2 separate regions of the Homo sapiens genome follow, and region 2 is linked to region 1. The links come from fine-mapping of genetic effects on gene expression. A gene starts in region 1. The other region holds a variant in brackets. All regions are shown on one strand. Distances are from middle to middle.

Region 1 (4,389 bases):
ACAACTGGTAGGGAATGAGTGGGTGGGTTCTGTCATCTACTGAGTAGAAACCAAGGACACTGCTAAACATCCTACCACACACAGGATGCAGCCCCCACCACCCATGAAGGCCCAAGACATCAACAGCAGTGAGTTGAGAAATTGCAATACATCCCTTCCTTGCCCCAAGTTCCCTCTGTAGCAGGAGAGCAAGTCAGAATAACAGAACTCAAAGCCTCTTAAAACCCCCCTTCTCGGCCACACATGGTGGCTCACGCCTGTAATCCCCAGAGGCCCAGGTGGGAGGATCGCTTGAGCCCAGGAGTTGGGGACCAGACTGGGTGACATAGCATGCTAGATCTCATCTCTACTAAAAATTTTAAAAATTAGCCAGGTGTGGTGATGCGTGCTTGTAGTCCCAGCTACTTGGGAAGCTGAGGCAGGAGAATCCCTTAAGCCCAGGAGATCGAGGCTGCAATGAGCTATGATCACACCACTAAACTCCAGTCTGGGTGACAGAGTGAGACCCTGTGTCAAAACAAACTAACTAACTGCCCTTCCCATAAATCCCAGTTTCCCCAATCAGGTGGTCCCATTAGGCCCATCTTTTTTTTCTTTTTTTTTCTTTTTTTTGAGTCAAAGTTTCACTCTTGTTGCCCAGGCTGGAGTGCAATGGTACAATCTCAGCTCACTGCAACCTCCACCTCCCGGGTTCAAGTGATTCTCCTGCCTCAGCCTCCTGAGTAGCTGGGATTATAGGCAAGCACCACCACGCCTGGCTAATTTTTTTTGTATTTTTAGTAGAGACAGGGTTTTGCCATGTTGGTCAGGCTGTCTCAAACTCCTGACCTCAGGTGATCCACCCACCTCGGCCTCCCAAAGTGCTGGGATTACAGGCATGAGCCACCACGCCCAGCCTCATTAGGCCCCTCTTAACCAAGTTCTAGGGTGAGGGATAAGTTGCTTACAGGGTTGGCGTGGATACAGCACTACACCCTCCCCTTAAAAGTAGGGAGTAGACGCCAAGGGAAACTAGAGCTATATAATCCCATCATCAAGCCTTCAGCCCTCTTCCAGGACCTGCCCCAACCGGCCTATCCAGGACTGAAACAACAGCATGGGCCCCACCTCCACCCCACCATATGCCTGGGACCTAGGGTGTCAAATTCCCCAGGACCTCCAAACACTTCCTCCTCTGCCCCTCTGAGAACAGCAATCCTGGTGCACACCCACGAACCTGTGGGGGTACCCACACCTCCACCTGGCCTCCCAGACCCTTGACCGCAGGGGCTCTCCACCCAGCCTAGCCCCTGGCACCAGAGCCCTGGCCCAGCTCCAGGTTTTGCATTCTGCCCTTGTGACCTGGCCAGGAGGTGGGTAACTAGGGCCAGTTTCTTCTTCTTTTTTTTTTTTTTTTTTTTTTGAGACCGAGTCTCACCCTGTTGCCCAGGCTGGAGTGCAGTGGCATGTTCTTAGCTCACTGCAACCTCCACCTCCCGGGTTCAAGCGATTCTCCTGCCCCAGCCTCCCAAGTAGCTCAGACTACAGGCGTGAGCCACCATGCCTGGCTAATTTTTGTATTATTAGTAGAGACAGGGTTTCACCATGTTGGCCAGGCTGGTCTTGAACTCCTGACCTCAGGTGATCCACCCACCTCGGCCTCCCAAAGTGCTGGGATTACAGGCGTGAGCCACTGCGCCTGGCCTACTAGGGTGAGTTTCTAAGGCAGGAGCTGAGAGTAGACATGGCTAGTAGGGTGCTCAGGAGGGCAGGAGGAGGGCTGTTTATGAGCCAGTGGTGGGAGAGAGTGTCATTCTAGTCTGAGAGGCTTTTTCCCTGTGGCTTCCAGCTCTGCCCTTTTCTTAAACACTCCTTCAGCCTCAGCTTGGCTTCAGTCCCACCAAGTGCAGTCTGACTCGTGGAGACATGAGAGATAGAGAGAGTGAGAGACCAGAGAGATCAGGAGACAGTGACTGAGAGGGACTTACAGGGAGATCAGGGAGAGAAGCAGAGAGAAGGAGAAAGCCCAGAGAGCATAAGAAATGAAGACCCAGAGACACCAAAGGAGGGAGAGACAGAGACACAGAGAGACAAAAAGATTCAGAGGCAGAGACTGTAGAGGCAGAAGCAAAGCAAGACACAGAGCATTTCAGAGACCCACGGCAAGAGACAGGGAACAGCATGGAGAACTATGAAAAAATAGGCTTCCAGAGAAAGAGAAAACTCCAGCTCTGGAGGGAAAGGGACTTAGCCAGGGCCACTCGGCCCATCAGTGGCAGAAATGGACTTGAACCCAGAGAAAAAGAAACAAGTGCCCCAAATACCAAAGGAACCCAGCCCCCATCCCTGGCCCATCATTTTGCGACAGCCCCATGACTACCCCAAAACCAGGCCCAGGCTCCAACTGGCAAAGCAAAAAAAAAAAACAAAGAAAGAAAGAAAGCTTTGCCCCATCCCAGGAGGGCCCCCAGGCGCAGCCCCCTCCCACGGCACCTTTCCAGCTGGCTGTGAGCCCTAGGGCCGCAGGAAAGGTATGGCAAGATGATGGGAGGGATTTAAAGTTCACAGCGAGAACAAGAAAAGTGGGGTTAAGGAGGAGGGTGTGGGCAGAAACAACTTAAGAACAACCTCTGCCCCACCACCCCCCAAGCACACCCAGAGCTGCAGGCTCTAGCGCATCCCAGCCAGTGTCTCCTGCAGCTCAGCAGGTAAAGGGCCCCGGTGAGGGAGGCAGAGAAGGAGGGGGTGTCTCCCAAGAGAGGGTGGGTCGCCAGCTCCAATCTCTGTCTCTGAGACTGGCTAGGAATCTTTTTTGCTGTTTCCTCTGAGAGCTCTCATGTCCCTGTTCTGAGCACTGGGATTTCTTTACTGGTGCTTCACCAAGTAGGTGGCTTCTCTCTCTGCAATGCAACCCCATGGTTGGCAACACTTGATTTTTTCCTGTCACTGTTTCTGCCTGTGCCCTTCCTCTCTGTCTCCGTCTCTTTCTCTCTCTCTCTCTCTCTTTTTTTTTTTTTTTTTTTTTTTGAGGCTGGAGTGCAGTGGTTCAATCTCAGCTCACTGCAACCTCCACCTCCTGGGTTCAAGCGATTCTCCTGCCTCAGCCTCCTGAGTAGCTGGGATTACAGGTGCCTAACACCACGCCTGACTAATTTTTGTGTTTTTAGTAGAGACAGGGTTTCACCATGTTGGCCAGGCTGGTCTCAAACTCCTGACCTCAAGTGATCCGCCTGCCTCGGCCTCCCAGAGTGCTGGGATTACAGGCGTGAGCCACCGTGCCCGGCCTCAGTCTCTCTTGGTCTGCCCTTTGCAGCCTACCCGTCTCTTTGTGTGGCTCTAATATTCCCTGCCTCTCTTATTCTCTCTCTCTCTCTCTCCATCTCTGTCTATGTGACTCTGTCTTTGTGTATCTGTTTCTGTCTGTCATTCTCGTCTCCCTCAGTCTCTGTGTCTAGCTCTGTCTCTCCCTCTCTCTGTCCCTCTTACCCTTTTTCTCTCCATCCTTCCATGTCCCTCTCTGTCTCTCAGTCAGTGTCCATCTCACTGTCTCTCCACTCAATCTCCCTTGTCTTTCTCTAGCTCTGTGTCTGTCTAGTTCTGTCTCTTTCTTTCTCTAGTCTATGTCAGCCTCTCTCTTTCTGTGATGTGCTCTCTGGCTCTCCCTATCTCTGTGTTTGTCTGTCTCTGTCCCTGTGTGTCTTGATCTCTCTTTATCACTGTCTCTGTATGACAGTCTCTTGACAGACAGGTGATGATAGATAGATAATAGACAGATGATACACAGATGATAGATTATGAAGATAGTAGATAGATGATAGATATAGATAGATAATAGATGATAGATAATAGACAGATCAATGATAGATGATAGAAGAATAGATAGATGATGGATAGACAGATGATAGATGATAGATAGATAGATAGATGATAGATAGATGTTGATAGATGTTAGATAATAGATGAGAAACAAAGAAAGAAAGAAAAAGAAAAAAGAAAGAAAGAAAAAGAAAGGAAGGAAGGAAGGAAAGAAAGAGTGATAGATGATAGATGGCTGATAGGTAGACAGACATCTGTAGATATGTAGATCGCTCACTGTTTTTCTGTCTCTCTCATTATCTTTATGCATATCTCTTGGCCTCTCTTAGTCTCTGTTCCTCTATCACTTGCCTCTCTCCATTTATGTCTCTGTGTTTCTGTCTCCTTATCTGTCTATATGTTGACTATCTCTGCCTCTTTCCTCCTTTCTCCCTCCCTTCCCCATCCCCTGGCCTCTCCCTGTCTCCTTCTCTCCATCTGCCTTCATTTCCAGGGCCTAGGGAAGGTAAGTCCCAGGGGAGATGGAAAGGAGGGATCAGCGATGTCCTCTCCCACTTTGCCCTCCACACGCCAGCAGCTGCCTTCACCATGGAC
Region 2 (4,389 bases), 290 kb before region 1:
TGGTGGTGCACGTCTGTACTCTCAGCTATTGATAAGGCGGAGGTGGGAAGATCGCTTGAGCCCGAGGTCGGGGCTGCAGTGAGCTGTGATTGTGCCACTGTACGCCTGGGCGACAGAGTGACTCTGTCTCAAAAACAAACAAAAAACTAAGCAGAGCTGGGTGCAGTGGCTCACGCCTGTAATCCCAGCACTTTGGGAGGCCGAGGTGGGTGGATCACTTGAGGCCAGGAGTTTGAGACCAGCCTGGCCAACTTGGTGAAACCCTGTCTCTACTAAAAATACAAAAATTAGCTGGATGTGGTGGTGTGCACCTGTAATCCCAGCTACTTGGGAGGCTGAGGCAGGAGAAATGCCTTGGACTCAGGGGGCAGAAGTTGCAGTGAGCCAACCGAGATCATGCCACTGCACTCCAGCCTGGGTGACAGAGCGAGACTCTGTCTCCAAAAAACAAAACAAAAACAAAAAAACCAACAATTAAGCGGGTGGGATCTGGGTCGGGATTCAGGCAGGCTGCGTGGACCTCGTGGGCCACGTGGTGGGATTGGCCTCCGTGTGGGTTTGTGGGTTTGGCTGTGGAATCCTGGTGCCAGCAGGAGGCTATATCAGACCTGGGAGGCGGGACTGGAGGTGGGGTCGTGGTTCCCTGCTCTGGGGTGAGGCTGGAACACATGGGCACCTCCACGCTGCTGTGTGGGTGGGCCTCACCTTGAACTTTCGGGTACTTCATGAATGCCAGGAAGGCGTGGCGCAGCGTGGTGCCCACCGTCTCGGTGCCGCCAAAGAGCAGGTTATGTGTGGTCATCAGCAGGGTATCCATGTGGAAGTGGCTCAGCGGGTCCTCCTTCTTCTGCCGTGGTAGAGGGGTGGGGATATGAGCCAGGGATGGAGACCCCTTCACTCTAGACCAGTACAACTGCTGCTGGGGGCCCATTCAGTCCCAGCTGGGTTTAACTTTCTTTCCCTGGGAGAGCTGGGGAACGCAGAAGGGCAGGGCAGGGAAAATCTCAGCTGCAGGGCCTACAATTAACTTCTTGGATAGAGCTTGAATGACTTCTTGTTTTTTTAAAAAATACATTTTATGTATGTATGTATGTATGTATGTGTGTATGTATGTATGTATGTGTGTGTATGTGTGTATGTATGTATGTGTGTATGTATGTCTGTATGTGTGTATGTATGTATGTGTGTATGTATGCATGTGTGTATGTGTGTATGTATGTGTATGTGTGTGTATGTATGTGTGCATGTATGTGTGTATGTGTGTATGTATGTATGATGTATGTATGTGTGTATGTGTGTATGTATGTATGTATGTGTGTGTGTATGTATGTGTGTATGTATGTGTTGTAGAGACTGGGTCTTACTATATTGTCCAGGCTGGTCTCGAACTCCTGGACTCAAGCGATCCTCCTGCCTCGGCCTCCCAAAGTGCTGGGATAACAAGCCTGAGCAACTGCCCCCTCCGCCCTGCCCCACCTCCTTTGATGACTTCTTAATGAGCTGTAAGTTGGCGGTGGCTGCGAGTGGCTCCTGGCTCCAGCCCAGCTGGGCCAGATGCTTCAGCTTCTCCAGGGAGAAGGTCCCCCAACCCTGCCCCATCTGGGGTCCCTGTGGGTTTGAGGCAGGGGCAGCAGGAGAATTTCAGGTCAGACTAGAGGTGGGATTTCCAGGTAGGGATTACCTCTGCCATCTTGGTGAGGAAGCAGTGGATGAAGTCCCGGGGAGATCTGGGGTCTAGCGAGGCCTGGTGGTCGTGGACGCTGTGGGCGATGAGGTCTCTCAGGCACTTGAAGTTCTGGAAGATGCGTTGGTGCGGCCCAGGCACCCAGTTCAGGAGGCTCGGGAAGATGTCGTACAACTGGGGACCAGACAGAGTAGGAGGGTTTTGGAGGAGGACGAAGGGTGTTCAGGGGCGAATGGGGTCAGTGTGGATTAGGTAGGCAGGGACAGGGTCTCAAAGGGCAGCCAGGTCCGGGGTGGGGGTTGGGGCTGAGGGGGAGTGGGAAGGAGGCAGTGGCGGCCATAAATGCTCAGTGG[A/G]GGGGAGTGGGCGTGGCCGTGTAACTCTGGGTGGGGTCAGATGGGAGGGGGCGGGCCCTGGGCGGGCCATTCACAGCCCTTTCCCCGCCCACTGTTTCCTCTCCATTCCTAGATCCTGCGGACCCCACACCCTGCCCCTGCTGGACTCAGTTGGCTGACCTCGCCCCAGGGGCTGCTCATGATTTGAAAGTTGTCATTGATAAGGCGGATAATGGTGAGCAGACGCTCATCATCATAGTCGAAGCGGCTGCCGAAGAGCACGGAACAGATAATGTTGGACCGTGAGCGACTCAGCACAAACGTGGGGTCAAAGGGCTCGCCTGAGGGTGAAGAATGGAATGGGTCAGGAAGACGCGATGTGCAGCACACCAGACCTCATGCAGCAACACCATTAATTTGCACAACATCCGACTCAACCATGGCAACGTGTCTTACGGTGCAAACACGGGCACATGGTCACAACATGCTGCTTAACAACACCCCAAAAGCATCTGTCAATGCCACAGACAGCACCGAACCCACAGCTTCCTGCAGCACATCGACAGCAACAACGCCCAACCACAGAACAGGTTGGCAACACACACACAGCACGCGACATAGCACAAGGCAATCATCAGGCATCACGGAACACAACAACACAGGGCAACAGAACACCCAGCAAATACGATCACAGTACATGCCAACACACGACACGCAGTGACCTAATAGCCAGCCCGGAAACATCCCAAGACACGGTAACCACACACCAACACGTAATGCCAGCATACCGCTACATAATCCTGCCACACAACACACGCTAGTACACAGCAACCCAGCAGACAGCACAGAACACACGATGTGGCATCACAACACATACAGTCAAGGCAGCAGAACAAAGGACACACTATGCAGCAACGCAACAACGTTGGCAGCCAGCAGATGACACAATGCAAAATCACATGCAGTGCCTGACAACTCTACAATCTCACCCAGAAATATCTCAACACAACACGTAGCATCTGGCCGTCCAACAGCTGAACAGACCATAGTAAATACTGAACAACACATTTCTTTCTTTCCTTTTTTCGAGATGAAATCTCGCTCCGTCGCCCATGCTGGAGTGCGGTGGCACGATCTCAGTTCACTGCAACGTCTGCCTCCCAGGTTCAAGAGATTCTCCTGCCTCAGCCTCCCAATGAGCTGAGATCACACCCGGCTAATTTTTTTGTATTTTTAGTAGAGATGGGGATTCACCATGTTGTCCAGACTGGTCTCGAACTCCTGACCTCAAGTGATGTGCCCACCTTGGCTTCCCAAAGTGCTAAGATTATAGGCATGAGCCACCGCGCCTGGTCTAGTTTTTGTATTTTTTGTAGATACAGGGTTTCACCATGTCGCCCAGGCCGGTTTCGAATTCCTGAGCTCAAGTGATCCACCACCTTGGCCTCCCAAAGTGCTAGGATTACAGGCGTGAGCCACCATGCCCGGCCAAAACAGCATATTTCAACACAGCACCCAGGACACAATAGCACAGCCCAAAAAACCAGATCTGGAGTTAGATGGACGCGGTTTGAATCCTCGTTGGTCTCTTAGCCTTGGTGTGACTTGGGCAAACTGACTTCCTTTTTCCGAGCCTCAGTCTTCTCATCTGTAAAATGGGCCTGATGGCACTCCTCTCATCCTGGGGCTACTATAAGGAGTCAGTGAGTGTGTGACTGGGAGTCAGTGAAGGGCCTGACCCATTGCAAGGCTGTTACAGATCATGGTGTTGTGGCAGGTTGTAATGCCCCCCAAAAGATGTCCAGGTCCTTATCCTTACAACCTGTGAATTTGTTACCTTACATGGTAAAAAGGACCTTGCAGGTGGGATTAAGTTGAGGATTTTGAGATGAGAAGTTTACTCTAGACTGTCTGGCTGGGCCTAATGTAATCACAGGGATCCTTTTTAGAGGGAGGCAGGAGGGACTGAGTAAGAAAAGATAATGTAGGCTGGGTGTGGTGGGTCACACCTGTAATCCCAGAATATATTGGGAGGTTGAGGAAGGAGGATTGCTTGAGCACAGGAGTTTGAGACTAGCCTGGGCAACATAGCAAGACTCCCTCTCTATAAAAAGTTAAAAGAATGAGTTGAATGTGGTGGCACATGCCTGTAATCCCAGCTACTTGAGAAGCTAAGGCGGGAGAATCAGTTGAGCTCAGGAGGTCAAGGCTGCAGTGAGCCAAGACCATACCACTGCACTCCAGCCTGGGCAACAAGAGTGAAGCTTCATTTCAAACAAACAAACAAACAATCAAACAAGTAAACAAACAGACCCCAAACTATTATTTTACTTCTGGGGCCCAGAATTCCAAAATCAGCTTCACTGGGATAAA

Direction of the effects. Positions count from the first base shown, and alleles are read on the strand shown. Sizes are in standard deviations (SD) of each study's normalised expression.
As copies of A replace G in region 2, the expression in platelets of the gene that starts at base 2,627 in region 1 goes up (moderate effect, 0.67 SD a copy in CEDAR).

The links. PIP is the estimated chance that this variant, and not a neighbour inherited with it, causes the effect. A credible set is the group of variants that fine-mapping cannot tell apart.
Region 2: its variant is the best candidate, but not a certain one, in a credible set for the expression of CYP2F1 in platelets (CEDAR, PIP 0.85).

What each region holds. Positions count from the first base shown.
Region 1 is chr19:41,111,806-41,116,194 of GRCh38, forward strand. CYP2F1 (cytochrome P450 family 2 subfamily F member 1) reads left to right here and starts at 2,627. Exons shown (of 10, transcript NM_000774.5): 1 at 2,627-2,687; 2 at 4,373-4,389. The coding sequence starts at 4,384.
Region 2 is chr19:40,824,415-40,828,803 of GRCh38, forward strand. It overlaps the pseudogene CYP2F2P. Among named protein-coding and RNA genes, the nearest start is that of CYP2A6, 24 kb to the right of the region's middle. RefSeq lists enhancers at 1,968-2,469, 2,470-2,969. The variant A/G (reference allele first, on the strand shown) is at 2,038.